Linked DNA regions of Homo sapiens: region 1 is linked to region 2. The links come from fine-mapping of genetic effects on gene expression. A gene starts in region 2. The other region holds a variant in brackets. All regions are shown on one strand. Distances are from middle to middle.

What was found. PIP is the estimated chance that this variant, and not a neighbour inherited with it, causes the effect.
Region 1: its variant is the best candidate, but not a certain one, in a credible set for the expression of CASP6 in whole blood (TOPMed, PIP 0.65).

Annotation. Positions count from the first base shown.
Region 1 is chr4:109,648,278-109,653,277 of GRCh38, reverse strand. The region is part of intron 1 of MCUB (mitochondrial calcium uniporter dominant negative subunit beta); the gene reads right to left. Among named protein-coding and RNA genes, the nearest start is that of CASP6, 53 kb to the left of the region's middle. The variant G/C (reference allele first, on the strand shown) is at 2,091.
Region 2 is chr4:109,700,698-109,706,224 of GRCh38, reverse strand. It overlaps CASP6 (caspase 6), which reads left to right and starts at 2,780. Exons shown (of 7, transcript NM_001226.4): 1 at 2,780-2,869. The coding sequence starts at 2,830. RefSeq lists enhancers at 2,359-2,408, 3,299-3,358, 4,119-4,178 and silencers at 2,569-2,858, 3,009-3,118.

The DNA.
Region 1 (5,000 bases), 53 kb after region 2:
CCTCCTGACTAGCTGGGATTACGGGTGCATGCCACCAAGCCTGGCTAATTTTTTGTGTATTTTTAGTAGAGACGGGGTTTCTACCAGGTTGGTCAGGCTGGTCTTGAACTCCTAACCTCGCGATCCGCCCGCCTCAGCCTCCCAAAGTGCTGGGATTACAGGCGTGAGCCACCACACCCAGCCTGACCGTTCTTTATAAAGTTAAATATACATTTATATGTGACCCAGTAATCCCACCCCTAGCTCTTTACCCTAGAGAAATGAAAGCTTATGTTCATACAATTTGTACAAATGCCATTTCATTTCCTCCCACTAGAGTGCATACTCCCCAGGAGCAGGCAGGGACTTGGTCTGGTTCACTGCTGTATCCCCAGCACCTAGAATGGCGCCTGAAACATAATAGGGGCTCAGTAAATACACGTTAAATAAATGCAGGAATGTTTTCAAGATGCTAAGGAAAATAATTACCAACCTAGAATATTATGCTCAGGAAAATTACTTCAGGCTTGCTGTGATTTGATTGTGTCCCCCAGAGTCCATGTGTTGGAAACCTAATGCCCAATGCAACGGTGCTGGGAGGTGGGATCTAATGGGAGGTGCTTAGGTCATGAGGGCTCCACCTTCATAAATGGATTGATGCCAATTATAAAAGGGCCTGAGGCTGCGGGTTTGATTGAGCTTTCTCTCTCCGCCTCTTGCCCTTTCACCTTCTGCCATGGGATAATGCAGCAAGAAGAACCTGACCAGATGCGACCTCTCAATCTTGGATTTTCCAGCCTCCAGAACTGTGAACTAAATACATTTCTGTTCATTATTAATTACCCAGTCTATGGTTCTGTTACAGCAGCACAAAAGAGATTACAGCAAGGCTGAAAGAAATGAGTTTTTCAGGTATAATCAAGATTATGGCTTATTTCCACAGATTTTTGCTAAAGAACTTCTTCAGGAAGAAGAGAACTAAACTCAAGTGGAAGCTGAATAGAACACTATTATGAGCTGAACTGTGCCCCACCCCCTGCAAATTCATATATTGAAGTCTTAACCCCTAGTACCTCAGAATGTGACTGTACTTTAAAGAGGTTAAGTTAAAATGAGGTCATTAGTATAGGCCCTAATCCGACATAACTGGTGTCTTTACAAGAAGTGGTGATTTGGACAGACATGTACACCCAGAAGAAAGACGGTGTGAGGACACAGGGAGAAGACAGCCATTTACAAAACAGCCATGTACAAGCCAAGAAGGCTTCAGAAGAAACCAACTGAGCCAACACCTTGAACTTTAACTTTTGGCCTACAGAAGGGTGGCGAGGAAGGTTTCTAAACAGTGGAGGCGCAATTAGTGTGGGTGTCATAGCCCAAATGGGATGAAGACGGCCTCCACATGGGAAATAGGCTCAGAAAAAAATGTTGGAGCCCAGTTGGGGTAAGAAAGCCATCTCTGCAGGGGAAGGAGTGGTAGTGGAGATGAAAGACTGTCACATGCAGAAGAAAAAAATATATCAAGAATAATGGAAGTCAGATTTATCCTGTGCAAGAATGGAACTACAATTATGGAAAGGGAGTAGAATAAACCCTGTAGTGTTAGACTGAAGTACTGGTGTGAATTCATGGTTTTTAATGTGTAATAATGTAAAGAAATATAATTAAATGAAATTAAATATAAAATTTTTAAAAGATGCAAATGTTTAATGTACGTGTGTATGTAAGTATAGAAATTTTAAATTTTACATATTTATGTTTTCATACTGACATATATATGTATATGTATATTCTCTTTCTGAGAGAGCCTATGAGCAGTGGCACTTCTAATAACATCTAGCATCTAGCTCTTGGCACCAGATACTATGCTTACCTAAGAGGAAGCAAGCCTCCTTGGAGAAATGGCTATTCTAGGGCTGGGCATGGATAAGGACAAAATGAACCTAGAGCATCTTGCTGTACTAGAAAGCAAGGAAGTGCTCAATGGATGATGGAAGACTTATCAAAAGAACCCAGAAGGCAGGTCAAAGGGTGTCCCTGTGGTAAAATCTGGAACAATTTTTAGCATTAAATAATGATAGTAACAAATTATAATCCACTGAAGGAGATAG[G/C]AAACCATGAGTGTATTCTGACATAATTAACTGAATAAATTTAAAGTTTAATAAGGAATGAGATATTTACACAGTTTTAAAATGCCTTCACACAAAAGCATTAATCCCAAAGGAAAAATAATAACTTCAAAGGGAAGAAGCCTGACAGATACCATCTTAATTGATCAAAATTAATATTATCAGTAATGGGGTGAGTTGAAATCATGCAATGAGAATACATGGGACACTTTTGAGATATTCCCGACAAAGATGCTATATAATCTGAAGCAAATCACAAGGAAATACCAGACAAACCCAAACAGAGGCATTCTACAAAATAATTGTAATCTTTAAAAGAGTCAAATCATGAATGTCAAAGAATGTTGTACTGATCCAGAGTGGAGGAGACATGACAACTAAATTAAACTGTGATTCTGAACTTCTGCCAATAAAGAACATTATTGGAAAAATTGGCAAGATTTTAATGAGGTCTAAAAATTAGATGGTGGTTATGTACTAACATTAATTTTCCTATTTTGATGGTTGTTTGTCATTAAGTTGGAGAATGTTCTTATGTTTCAGGGGAACTGGCATCAAGTTTGCAATGTATTCTCAAATAGTTCAGAAACAAAATAGTCTTCCCACTGTGGTTACAACTTTCTTTATGTTATGTTTGAGACTGTTTCAAAATCACACAATTCTGAGAGACTGGTAGGCCAGGGTAAAAAAAATTAATAATTCAAAAACAATAGGTTTACAACACCAAAATTACCATATACAAAGATAAGTGATTAATAACAAGGGGTCAAATATTAAACCTTTTTTGCATGCCAGTAGGAAACTATGGTTACTTGGGAAATTGAAAATAAAAAATTTTTTAAAGCAAAGACACTCCTGTACAAGTTTTTATTTAGAAACCCCAAGAATATTGACAATCCTCAGACATGTTAGTAAAGCTTAAAAGAGAAACTACCATACCCTGTAACAACCCTTTTTAGAGGGTTATTATTAAAATTCTGAAAATCTTACACAAACCCATCATGCATGCAGAGCTGAATTTCAAGAATGACTCACCAAAACTCAGGTCTTCCTTTTAGTTTACACCTCACCTCAAACCCATCTTGAGGAGCCTACCATTCCCCCCTTGATAGGGGGATATGATAGTTTTGAATAAACAAATGGTATGAACCAAATCTGTTGCTTTTCATTTAATCCAGTTAGCCGGGCTGCTCCTCCATACCACACCTGGGTTCAGATTCCCCAAATCAGGCCCCACTTCTCAAATCTAAGGATTCTCAGGATGAGTCCTTAGATTTAAGAAGTATAATGAGTCCTAGCTGGACGCAGTGGCTCATGCGTGTAATCCGAACACTTTGGGAGGCTGAGGCAGGAAGATTATTTGAGCCCAGGGGTTCAAGACTAGCCTGGGCAACAGGGTGAAACCATATTTCTATTTTAAAAAATCATAATAAATGAGTCCCAGGCAGGAAAAATGAAATTAACTCTGTCCCTGACACAATGTGATGAAACTACAGAACCCCAGAAACAAAAAATTCTTATAATGCCTGAAAAAAAAAGAGATTGCCTACAAAGGAAAGCAATTAAATTTACATAAGGTGAATTAATAGACGGCAGAGGCAAAGGAGTATCTTCAAAGTTCTGAGGGGAAATAACAATCAACCTTGAATTCTATAGTCAGATAACCTACCATTTTGAACAAAACTGAGACTGAGCGACTAAAACATGTTTACTGAAAGCATTTTGCAGGAAAAAGGAAATCAAACACATAAGAAAACAGGATGTAAGAAAACTTACACACCACAGGATGTAAAACTAAATGAAGAGAGAAAAAAAGTGTGTACTTCCAAACCAATAGAGATAAAGGAGTATAAAAAAACATTTAGCCAAATTATGAGAAGATAAGAAAGGAGAAAGAAAATGAGCAAAGGAAAATCAGGATGAACAGAATGCACAGAATAAGGTGGTAGATAGATATCCACATTTGTCTGATATCACAATAAATGTAAACAGATTAAACTCAACAGTTAAAAGGACAGAAGTTGTTGGATTTATAACAACACAGACTGAGGGTTTAACTACTCATAGGCTTTCATTGAAGGCACTACTCAGCTGTAGTGAACAAAATGTAACACGAACAAGGAATAAGAATGCATGAGAAATTCTGAACAAGCAAATTGGTAAAATATATGCATAAAATAAATAAAAACTCCATCATTTTAAATGTTGTTTTCCGTGTCACTTAATATAGCGTACTTTTGTACTCCACAGAAACAAGAAATTCTTGTGTGAGGCAAGAAAAATGGTGCTTTTGGGGTTAGGCTGCTTTGTACTCCTCAGTTACATAGTTGTTTTGCTTTGAAGCTTGTCTTTGGGTTCATTAGTTCTACATCCTGTGGTGCATCATGATCTTTTGTAGAATCTCACACTGAGCGTCAAGCTTTAATGATTTTTTTTTTTTTTTTTGCTTCTCTGTACCAAAAAAAAAAAAAAAAATCAAACTGCTATATAGGAGCTCTCTTTTGATGAACTCTTACTTGCCTCTAGATCTATGTATCTCCCTAACAAAAACTGCATTTTGTAGCACAGACTAGAAAGTTATCTTAATATTTCAGTCTCAGGTACTACATGAATCATCACTGTGAAAATAAATTTTTTCTTCTTCTGGTCTGGACAGCCCAAGACGAGTAGTTAATCCACAAAATGACTGAAACAGAACAGAAACAGAATACGTTTGGCATTTGGCTAATACAGTACAGAAACAGAATACATACATACAATATTTGGCTAGCAGCCAACAATAACTTCCACCTACTGTAATTTCTCACCAGCTCCCTCTCAGCTAGACTGTATTTACATCCCTTCTGAGAACCAGGCATTTAAGTCAGTCATCCCTTTGGAACTGATCTCAAC
Region 2 (5,527 bases):
GATATATGCATATACCTATGTATAATGTATGTGTGTGTGTATATGTGTGTGTGTATATATATATATATATATATATATATATATATATATATAAAATGGATAGGTATGTTGTCCTGCCTGTAAAATACCACCCAGTGTGCCAATTGAAATATATATAATTTTTAAATATTTATATATGTATTTTATATATATTATATATATATATATATATATATATATATATTTTTTTTTTTTTTTTTTTTTTTTTTTTAAAGAGTGTCTTACTCTGTCACCCAGACTGGAGTGCAGTGGCACAGTCAGCTGACTGCAGCCTCAAACTTGGGCTCAAATAATCCTGCCATCTTAGTGTCCTGAGTTGCTGGGAATACAGGCATGTGCCACCACTCTTGGCTAATTAAAAAAAAAAAAAAATTGTAGAGACAGGGTCTTGCATTGTTGCCTAGGCTGGTCTCAAAACTCCTGGCCTCAAGCAATCCACCTTGGCCTCCCAAAGTGCTGGGTTTACAGGCATGAGCCACTGTGGCTGATACATGTACTTTTAATTTTTCGTTTTTCTTTTTTTCCCCCTCTAGTCTCTAGTTACATACCGTAAGTGGATATTTTGACCTCCCATGAATCACAAATGTTCTTAATGGCATCTCGAATGATGAATCCTTTCCAGAAGATTTTCAATTTACTTTGCTCAGAACTATCAGAGGAATCATGATGACAGCTATAGCCTTATGAAATGTATTTTGTAAATAAGACTTGAAAGTCAAAATTTCTCCTTGATCCCTGGGCTTCAGAATGGATGTTGTGTTAGCAAGCACGATAACAGCATCAGTCTCTGTACATCTCTATCAGAACTCTTGGATGACCAGGTGTATTGTCAATGAGGAGTAATATTTTGAAAGGAACCTTTCTTCTGAGCACTAGAGCTCAACAGTGGGCTTTAAATATTCTCTAAGCCATGCTGTAAATAGATGTGCTGTCACTAACTAGCCTTTGTTGGTCCATTTATAGATCATATTTAGCATAATTCTTAAGGGCACTAGGATTTTCAGAATGGTAAAGGAATGTTGGCTTTAAAGTCATCAGTTGTATTAGCCCCTAACAAGAGCATCAGCCTGTTCTTTGAAGCTTTGAAGACAGGCATTGACTTCTCTCTAGCTATGAAAGTCTTAGATGGAATCTTCTTCCAATAGAAGGCCGTTTCATATACATTTAAGATCTGTTGTTTTGGCTGGGCACGGTGGCTCACACCTGTAATCCCAGCACTTTGGGAGACCGAGGCGGGCAGATTGCTCAAGGTCAGGAGTTCAAGACCAGCCTGGCCAAACATGGTGAAACTCTGTCTCTACTAAAAATACAAAATTAACCTGGACATGGTGGCACATCCTGTAATCCCAGTTACTTGGGAGGCTGAGGCAGAAGAATCGTTTGAACCCAGGAGGCAGAGGTTGCAAAAGATCGCACCACTGTACTCCAGCCTTGGTGACAAAGCAAGACTGTCTCAAAAACAAAAGATTGTTGTTTAGTGTAGCTGCCTTTATCAATGATTTTAGCTAGATCTGGATAACCTGATGCAGCTTCTACGTTAGCACCTGCTGCTTCACCTTGCACTTTTATGTCATGAAGATAGTTTCTTTCCTTAAACCTCAGGAACCATCCTCTCTGCTAGCTTCCAGCTTTTCTTTTGCAATTCCCTCACCTCTCTCAGCCTCCATAGAATTGAAGAGTTAGGGCCTTGCTCTGGATTAGGCTTTGGCTTAAGGGAATGTTGTGGCTGTTTTTATCTTCTATCCAGACCAACTAGAACTTTCTCCATATCAGCAATAAGGCTGTTTAGCTTTATTGTCTTTTGTGTGTTTACTGGAGTAGCATTTTTAATTTCCTTCAAAATTTTTTCCTTTGCATTCATGACTTGGCTTTTCTCCTTTGCACTCACAACTTGGCTAACTGGAGCAAGAAGCCTAGCTTTCTGCCTACCAACATTACTTCCTCACTAACTTAATCATGTTTGCTTTTGATTTAAAGTGACAGGCTCTTCCTTTCATTTGGACACTTAGAGGCCTTTGTAGGATTATTAGTTGGCCTAATTTCAAAATTGTGTTTCCAGGAATAGGGAGGCCCCAGGAGGGGGAGAGAGAAGGGAAAGTTCGGTGGAACAGTCCAAACACATACAGGGCTTATGGATTAATTTCCCCTTCCTTTATGAGCGCGGTTCATGGTGCCCCAAAACAATTGCAATAATATTAAAGATTACTGATCACAGATCACAACAGCAGACATAATAACAATGAAAAATTTTGAAATATTGCGAGAGTACCAAAATGTGACACAGAGACACAAAGCGAGCCAATGTTGAAATACAGGCAGTATCTGCTAAGCGGTATAAAACAATCTATGCCTGTACCTCTAGAAAGTACAGGCATAGCAAAGTAAGGAATAGCAAATGTTTGGGGCAGCTGGGATTAAATGAGTCCGAGCTCACACAAGTGATGTGAAATTGCCTCGGGCTAGGCGGTCTGTGTGTCCCCCCGGGTGGCAACTGGCATGTCCCCAGGGCACGGTTAGTCCCAGCGGGCCTGGAGGCGAAGACCGCGTACCTCTCCCTGCCCCCGCGCTCTTGGTCCCCGCGGGCTCCGGAGCGACTGGGAGGAGCTTTAACTCTGGGAAGGACCAGCCCGATCCACGGGAGCCCGGGCGGCGCGCAATCAGAACCAACTGGCCCCACGCTCGGGGGCAGGGGGCGGGGCCGCCGAGGAAGGGCCGAGGGCGGGGCCGGGCCCGGGAGCCTGTGGCTTCAGGAAGAGGAGGGCAAGGTGTCTGGCTGCGCGTTTGGCTGCAATGAGCTCGGCCTCGGGGCTCCGCAGGGGGCACCCGGCAGGTAGGCAGGGGGCGTCGACTGGGCACCGAGCAGGTCTGCGTCTTGCTCCGGCTGGAGGGGAAACGAGGGTTAGTGGACCGGGCGCGCGGACCGGAGTGGGGCCGCGGGTTCCTTCGGCTTTGCAGGGCGGCCTGGAGAAGTTGCACTCTTGGATTGAAGCGCTCAGGGCGGGTGGGGACGGTTTCGCGCTTCAGTCTAAGAAACACTCGGGGACCTGGCTGCCGCCTCCTGGCGGTCCCGAGTAGCGACGCCGGCGCCGGGGCGTGCCCCTGCCGCCTTTGTCCTCCGGGGCGATGAGCGCTTTCGGGGCGCCCCGGCTGTTTAAACCTTAAAAGGCTGTCCCCACGCGGGCCTGGCGTTCCCCCACACCTGGCCGTTTGAAATGTTGGGGGTTGGATCTTTTGTTTGCTCACTTCGAAAAGTGAAAAGGAGGGGTTGTTCCGCCGAGTCATAATGAAAACATAACAGGCCCGCGGGGTGCCCGGGCCAAGACCCTGGGTCCTCCCGGGCTTCAGCTGGAGGCGGCCAGTTCCTGGCGGCCAGCACACCCCGGTATCTCTCTTCTTCATCCAGGAAACCTGCTGCTGTCTGTCGGTTTGAGCCAAAACCACAATAACTTTTTTCTGCAAAGTAATCAACTGCTAAGAGCGTACGTTCTGTCACTTATTACTGGTAAAGTTTAGAAACTTCAAGCCTGGCCAGAGTGAAACAAACAAAAAGGTCGAAACGCCTGCAGTTGGCCGGCCGTGGTGGCTCACGCCTTGTAATCCCAACACTTTGGGAGGCCGAGGCGGGCGGATCACCAGAGGTCGGGAGTTCTCGACCAGCCTAACTAACACGGTGAAACCCCGTCTCTACTAAAAATACAAAAAAATTAGCCAGGCCTGGGCGCAAGCTACTGGGGAGGCTGAGACAAGAGAATCGTTTGAACCCTGGAGGTGGAGGTTGCAGTGAGCCGAGATCGCCCCACTGCACTCCAACCTCGGCGACAGAGTGAGACTTCGAATCAAGAAGAAAAAAAAAAAAAAAGAACGAAACGCCTGCAGTTGGTTAGAGTGCCTTTGTTTAAGAACTCTTTATATTTTGCTGCACAAAGGAAATGGTGCTCCAGAGGCAAGCTGTAAAAGTCACATGGTCGTAGAGGAGGTAGATAGGTAGCCTTGTCCTGGAGGCACAGTGCAGGGTCCAGTTGCAGTCTCTAGGGGCGGGAAGCCGGGGCTTTCCTTCACTCACCTGCTCCCTTCCTCTTCTTCCTCCACCGCACTCCCCAGTGCATGTTCTAGGCCTGATGGAGGTTACTCTACATAGGGTTACTAAATACATTGTTGATGGAGCCGATGGGTAGATTTTCATAGAGAGTGCAGTGAATGAAGACGATGACAGTAGAATGACCGAAGTCGTTTGGGAAGTTGAACAAAGTTTAGAAAGGTAGCCGGTCTCGGGTGGGAGGGGCTGCGTGGGGATGGGCCTACAGAGACTTTGGAATCTGTAGGTGGGCTGGCTTTCAATCCCAGCTTCACTTTGCCGACCTTGGCACGCCTGGCCCACTTTCTCTGTCCCTGTTCCTGAGCTGTGGAGCTGTGAGATAAGGTATCTAAGGCATCAGGCCATCAACAAATGGTAGCTGGCAGGATTATCTGGAGGGACTATCAAATTAGAGTGAGGTGAAAAAAGGAATGATTAGTTTTGTAAAACCTAAGCTGATTTAAGGAATAAGGAGGTGGCAGTTACATTATCCTGCAAAGGAAGAGAAGTGAAAAGAGGGCCAGACACAGTGGTGGGCGCCTCTAGTCCCAGCTACTGGGGAGACTGAGGCAGGAGAATCGCTTGAAACCTGGAGGTGGACTTGCAGTGAGCCAAGATTGCGCCACTGCACTGCAGCCTGGGCGACAGAGGGAGGCTCTGTCTCAAAAAAAAAAAGTGAAAAGAGGTCAAGAATCAGGTTTAAAGAAGGGCACATTTTTGATAAGTAGATTGCAGATGAAAAGGAATTTCTATATCTGTTATACAGGGTAGCTCCTTCATTAAAATTTATTTTCTCCATATCAATAAAGCTATTTCTTACTTTATCCAGGTTTTTAAATATTAACGCAGGCCGGGCGTGGTGGCTCATGCTTGTAATCCCAGCACTTCCAGGAGGCTGAGGCAGGTGGATCACTTGAGGCCAGGAGTTCAAGACCAGCCAGGACAACATAGCAAAACCCTGTCTCTACTGAAAATACAAAAAAAAAGTAGCTGGGTGTGGTGGCGCATGCCTGTAATCCCAGCTACTCAGGAGGCTGAGGCGGGAGAATCGCTTGAACCCGGAGGCGGAGGTTGTGGTGAGCCGAGACCACGCCACTGCACTCCAGCCTAGGCAACAGAGCAAGACTCCATCCCAAAAAGATAGTAATAAAAAATAAATATTAATGCGGCATAATGATACTTAAGTGCCCCCTTCTGGAAAGCTTGTCTTCTTGGGATACACAGCTCAAGGTGGTCATGATGTGTTATTTTCTCTCAATCTGTGGGTAAAGTTTATCAACTCCAGAAAAGTATTGGAACTTAGGTCCTGGCATCTGTCTCCATAGCTTTTTGTTCTGATTCAGTGTTTGCTAGAGTGGCCACTGGACCTGGTCATTAACTGGTACTGCAGGATGCAGGGTGCACTTTGTGAGA